Linked DNA regions of Homo sapiens: region 1 is reported to be linked to region 2. The links are microRNA targets in miRTarBase. Many come from high-throughput screens and were not tested one by one. Region 2 holds a microRNA gene; the other region holds the end of a gene's coding sequence.

What was found. The annotated mature microRNA hsa-miR-6819-3p reads AAGCCUCUGUCCCCACCCCAG and lies in region 2 at 2,099-2,119, opposite strand. An mRNA with a match to its seed (bases 2 to 7 or 8) in the 3' UTR can be bound and repressed. Matches are read on the target gene's strand: a 7mer-m8 pairs with bases 2 to 8, a 7mer-A1 pairs with bases 2 to 7 and ends in A, and an 8mer does both.
Region 1: the mRNA of MGST3 is a reported target of hsa-miR-6819-3p. Seed matches in the 3' UTR shown: 7mer-A1 at 1,913-1,919.

Annotation. Positions count from the first base shown.
Region 1 is chr1:165,654,922-165,657,921 of GRCh38, reverse strand. MGST3 (microsomal glutathione S-transferase 3) reads right to left here. Exons shown (of 6, transcript NM_004528.4): 6 at 1,786-2,554. The coding sequence ends at 2,418. Among named protein-coding and RNA genes, the nearest start is that of MGST3, 25 kb to the right of the region's middle. RefSeq lists a silencer at 690-856.
Region 2 is chr22:36,284,749-36,287,894 of GRCh38, forward strand. MIR6819 (microRNA 6819) reads right to left here and starts at 2,159; the gene lies at 2,099-2,159. It overlaps MYH9 (myosin heavy chain 9), which reads right to left. Exons shown (of 41, transcript NM_002473.6): 35 at 1,970-2,098; 36 at 1,117-1,205; 37 at 910-1,033; 38 at 373-581. RefSeq lists an enhancer at 1,648-2,160.

The DNA.
Region 1 (3,000 bases), not on the chromosome of region 2:
TCTAAGCAGTCTTTACCAACTGGATTCTGCCAAGCCCTAGGGTTCCCTGGAAGTGCAGTGAGTGGGGAAGTAGGGCACTGAAAGGCAGAGCTCTCGGTTCTGCACTTCAACCACAGCGCCCTTTATGTACCGAGCTTCCTTACAAAACTCCATCTGAACCCAGTGCGCAATAGCAAAATGACAAACTGGGATCACATTACGGATGCTCAACTTATGATGGGGCTACATCCTGAGAAACCCAGCACACGTTGAAAATATTGTAAGTTGAAATTGCATTTCATACACCTAACCTACTGAACATCATAGCTTAGCCTAGTGACCTTAAACATGCTCCGAACACTTACATTAGCCGACAGTTGAGCAAAACCATCTGACACAAAGCCTCTTTTATAATGAAGTGTTGAATATCTCATATGACTTATTGAATACTGAAAGTCAAAAACAGAATGATTGTATTGGTACTCAAAGTACGATTTCTACTGAATGAATATTGCTTTTTTTTTTTTTTTTTTTTGAGACAGTCTTGCTCTGTCACTCACACTGGAGTGCAGTGGTGTGATCTCGGCTCACTACATGTTCCGCCTCCTGGGTTCAAGCGATTCCCCTGACTCAGCCTCCCAAGTAGCTGGGATTACAGGCATGCACCACCATACCCAGCTAATTTTTGTATCTTTAGTAGAGATGGGGTTTCATCATTTTGGCCAGGTTAGTCTCGAACTCCTGACCTCAGGTGATCTGCCCGCCTCAGCCTCCCAAAGAGCTGGGATTACAGCCATGAGCCACCATGCTCAGCCTGAGTCTTGCTTTTGCACCATCGTAATGTTGAAAAATTGTTAAGTTGAACTGTCATAAGTTGGGGACCATCTGTAGTTTGAAAAGTACACCCTGTTAAGACTTTTAAAGGTGAAAAGCCAGCTTCATCTCCAGGTCTTCCCTGCCCTGCTTCACTGATGCCTGCTGTTCTCTGCAGTGAGAAAGGAAACCTCGGCAAGTTCTCTGGCCTCTCTAGATGTGTTTCTTATGAAGCAAAAACCAAAACCCTGTCTTATTGTAAATTCTCAATTATATCATTTTTTCAAGCCAGGACCAAAAATCCCTACCATTCATCGTCACCATCATTTCATAAAGAACATTTTAATGTAAAAAGTACAAGTCAAAGCTTTATGAAAAACAGTCCCTCATTTTCCTTATTTTGCTCTCCACTGGTGAAACTTTCTCATGAACTAACACTGGAGTGTGTGCTAAACTGGTCCAGCCTCCTCATCAAATGCCCCAAGGGCTCCAGGTGGCCATTTGGCCAAGGCTGACCATCTTCAATGGCTGGCCATGGCATTCTATCCTTAAATGCTTCATCTTCGGAGCTTAAGCAATAAACTGGTACAATGGAAAATGCATGGATTTTAGAGTCAGGACTGGGTTCAAATACTGTCTCTCATCCTCACAGGCTATTGAGCATTTGAAAAATGGGTAGTGCAACTGAAGAACTGCTTTTTTATTTAAATTAATTTAAATTTAGATGGCCACATGTGGCCAATTGGGCAGCGCAGGTCTAGACACTATATTTCCTATTAAGGTAGTTTATGGCCACATCAGTGTTTTGGAGTAACTATCTCATTCTGCCAACTTGGCAGTGTTCTCTAAACCAACTGAAATCTTCTAAGTCTTCCTCATTTGTACGTAGGCAATCAGATCTTTGTTTCTAAATGTAGCAAGTTACATTCATCTCTGTTAACCTTCATCTTACATTTAGTCTATTGCTTCAGTTTTTAAGCAACAGAAACAATCTTTAATAGAAACTTAATTTTTATTTATTTGAGACAGGGTCTTGCTCTGTCACCCACGCTGGAGTGCAGCAGTGTGATCATAACTCACTGCAGCCTTGACACCCTGGGCTCAAGTGATCCTCCCACCTTAGCCTCCCAAGTAGCTGGGACTGCAGACATGTGCCATCATGCCTGGCTAACTGTTGTATATTTTTTTGTAGAGATGGGGTTTTGCTATGTTGCCCAGGCTGGTCTTGAACTTTTAGGCTCAAGCATTCCTTTGGCCTTGGAGTATCTGTAGCAAGTGATAATGCATATCCTGAGAGCTAGAAGATTTTTCTTTAATTTTTCATCACTGTGGCATGACTATACCTACATCACCACAATCAGACTTTTTCTCAACCTCACATACTACAGAAGCATCTGCTGGAAGGGTGAGGAGAGGGCACAATACTTGTGGCTCCTTTCTCATCTAGTAGGACTAGGCTACTGATTTCAGATACAGACTCAAACGGAAATGAGTGGTAAGAGTCAGGAGTTTTAGGTATGAGGCTGATGCCAGGTAAGTTTTTATTATATTTAGAAAAAAAATGTAACTGGAAATAAAGGTAAGTCATTTAAAATGAATGAGAGTTTTTAAACCCCTATAATTCTTTAATGGCAGCATTTGGGTCCACTGCCCAAGCCACTTTTAACCCAACCAAGATGCTGGAAAGCAGAGCACACAGTTGTGCCCACCAAGCCCAGGAGGGCGATGGACCCCAGGGCTCCTCGACTACGCTTGCTGGGTTCTGAAAAAGAAGAAAGAACAGAAGTTACCAGGAGTGCTCCAGAATTATGATGCTTTCAACATTCGCAAGCCATTCTATCATCGCATCTGAGGTTGTACATTAGACAAACTGGCCTTAGGAGGTTAACTAACTCTTTAGCCTGAAGCTGTTGGCAAGTCAGATACCACATGCCAAGTAACGTGCCACAGTAGTATTGCTTGGATCTTAGAAAATTATGGGATAATAATTACAGCAACTTTGCTCTAGGACCTTTGGAAGGAGTTCCCTCTGTTTCAAAGAAGTACAGCTAAAAATGGCTTTTCCTCCTCCTTACTCAGATATAGGAGGTATAGTAATGGTGAGGCTCTGGAGTCGGACTGCATGGGTTTGATTCCTAGTTTACTAGTTTACGCTTAGTAGCTCTGTGACCTACAGCTTTAATCATGCTGAGTCCCAGTTTCCTAATT
Region 2 (3,146 bases):
ATGTAACTGGAAAAGAGGTCTGGGGGCCTACTGTAAACCCCATTCCCTCCAAGGAAGTCTCAGTCCTGCTGAGCCCATAGGACAACTGTCCTAGTGGGCAGGACCCCCCTGTACCTCCTGCTCTGATTCACTCTCAGACACAGCCACCAAAACTCCTGGCTTTAGAGGTGGAACAGAGAATCCTGTTCAAACCCCACAAGCTCCCCCAACCACCCAACCTGTGGAAGGGATGAGGGCCCCATCAGGAGGGAGGGAAACAGCCCCAGGCTCAGGAGACAGAGAGCTGGTTGTGGCCCAGATTTGGGCAGGACTGCAGGGGGGCCAGAGTTTTTTCCAGGACAGCTGGGGTTGGGCGGGGCCAGGGGCACGTACTTGGTCTCGTTGTCCAGCTGCTCCTCCAGCTGTGCAATCTTGGCCTCGAGGGCGGTGATGGAGGCCTTGTACTTGGACTTGACAGTGCCCTCCATCTCCTGCAGCTTGACCTTAAGCTCCTTGTTCTGGCGTTCCAGCTGCTGCCGAGCATTCTCGTTCTTCTGGGCGTGGCTGCGCTCCAGGTTCAGGTCGGTGTTGATCTGGTCGATCTGCAGAAGAAGGGCCAGTGACCTTGGGGAGGGCTGGGGCCCTGGCTGGAGGGCATGAGCAGGGCCAGAGGAAGGTGGCAGCAGGATCCCACCAAACCCTTGGGGTCCAGAGTCTTGGGTCTCCCAGAAAAGGGAAGATTAGAAACTTCTGAACACCCAACACAGAAGCCAGAGGGGGACCTTTCAGGTCCAGGTGCCTGGACATTTTCCCCTAAGCGCCTGGGGAGCAGCTGGCACTTGGCCTGTGCTTCTGCCGGCTGGGTCCAAGGCCAGCTCTGCCGTGGTGGCTCCAGCCAGAGCCCAGAGTGGGAGAAGTCCTGGCACCCACCTGCAGGTTGGCCTTCTTCAGCCGGTCGTTGATCAGCTCCGTGTTGCCCTGCTCCTCCTCCAGCTCCTCCTCCAGCTGGGCGATGCGGGCCTCCAGACGCCGCTTCTCCTCTAACGCCAGGGCTCTGCGGGGTGGGCGGGAGAAGTGAGGGGCCTACCCTGGGGACACACCTGGTCCCCCCCAACTCTGCCCCCTCACTCAGCTCACCCTTTGCCGCTGCTGTTGGCGATCTCGTCAGCCAGCTCATCCCGCTCCTGCTGGGCCTGGCGCTTGGCACGCTCCGCGGCTGCCAGTTCCTGCCACAAAGACCCAGAGTGTGACCTAAAGGCAGCCACAGCCCCACAAGACCATCCTTCCCAGCCCCAGGCACCCTCCCCTCAAGCCCTTCCCCAGGCCCACCTCCCCACGAAGCCCTTCCTCCAGAAACCCTCTAGCTCACAGGGCTGGTGCCCCCCTGAAGATATAGCTTAAACACCATATGTTTATAAAACTCTTACATTTAAGTGCTAGGAATCAAGCCAGGTGCCAGGGTATGGCGATAAGTAAGAAGTGTCCTGGCCTAACCAGGGAGACCACGTGGACAGAGTCACTCAGGGCGGCCCCTCCCTGTTCTGGGTAAGCCAGAGCTTGGAGTCAGCTCTGGAGGCCACAGGCAGATGGCTACACCCTGGACGCACTCGCAGCCGGCACATCACGCTGCAGGGCACCCTCCAGACCTGGGAAACACTTCAGGACGGGCTCAGGTGCGACGGGCAGGGCGGCCGAGGGGACGCTCAGACCCCTTCTCACCAGGCAGCATTCACAGCAGGAGGTGGTGGTGGCCACAAAGCCTCATCTCATGTGAGGGATGCCAGTTTCACACACACACACACTCTGATCATACGAGGGAGCCCCGCTATGAAACGGAACCCTGGAGGGAATCCTTATGTAACCTGAGAGCCATCCCCAGCCAATTCCTGGAGCCCAGTAGGACTCCAGCCCTGTCCTCAGCTGAAAGCCCCACGCTGCCACCTGCTGGCCGCAGGGCAGCGGTGCCGCTCTCCATTGCAGCCCCACCCACCTCCTGCAACTGGATCATCTCGGCCTCCATGCTCTTCAGCTTCTTCTCGTTCTCTTTGGCCTGGGCCAGGATCTCCTCACGAGAGGCGCGGGTGTCATCCAGCTCGCGCATGCAGTCCTTCATCTGGGCCTGGGGTGGGGACAGAGGCTTGGCACCCCACCCAGCTCCTTGGCCCTCCACCCCAACCCTCATGGGTCACCTCGCCAACAGGGCTCATGGCTGGTGCTCCACTCAATGCTGTATTTAACCAACTAACCGTGGTGACAGGGCAAAAAGGCAACTAAAGACAATCATCTGTGTATCCCACCCCGTAATGCACACTTTGACAGTGTTCGTCACCGTGGACGTGAGCCCAAGCTGAGCTTCATTTTCTACTTTCTGTCCCCTCCTGTGGGCCGGAAGCCAGTGCCCATGGTGCCACCCCTAATGCGCACCTGCCACTCAAAACCAGTGCCCAGCCTGCCGGTCCATCCCCACCACAGGCAGGAAACACCTTTCCTTTTGTTATTCTCCTGTTACTTCTTTTAACACTAAAGACCTTTGTCAAATAGCCTTTTTTTCCTTTTGCAGATAAATCCGAAATTGAGATTCCCCAAATCAAAGAGAGTGACTGGCTGTGTGCAGCCCGACCACACCAGTAAAAAAATGCCACCAGCAATCAGAGCATCTATGCCCACAACCTTGACCACAATGAAGTTTTAAAGTTTTTGTGGGTTTTTTTTTTACACTTAACATTTTTTTTTTGGCCGGGCGCAGTGGCTCATGCTTGTAATCCCAGCACTTTGGGAGGCCGAGGCGGGTGGATCACAAGGTCAGGAGATTGAGACCATCCTGGCTAACATGGTGAAACCCCGTCTCTACTAAAAATACAAAAATTAGCCGGGCGTGGCGGCGTGCGCCTGTAGTCCCAGCTGCTGGGGAGGCTGAGGCAGGAGAATGGCGTGAACCCGGGAGGCGGAGCTTGCAGCAAGCCGAGATCATGCCACTGCACTCCAGCCTGAGCGACAGAGCGAGACTCCGTCTCAAACAAACAAACAAAAAAAAATTTGTTAAACTAAGGTTATTCTTGTTACATGATATGGCGTATCAGAGCTGTTTTTACGTGTTAATTATTCTTTAATTATTAGTGAGGTGAAGATTTCCAAGTATGTGTCCCACACTCCGGGCTGCTTCTTGG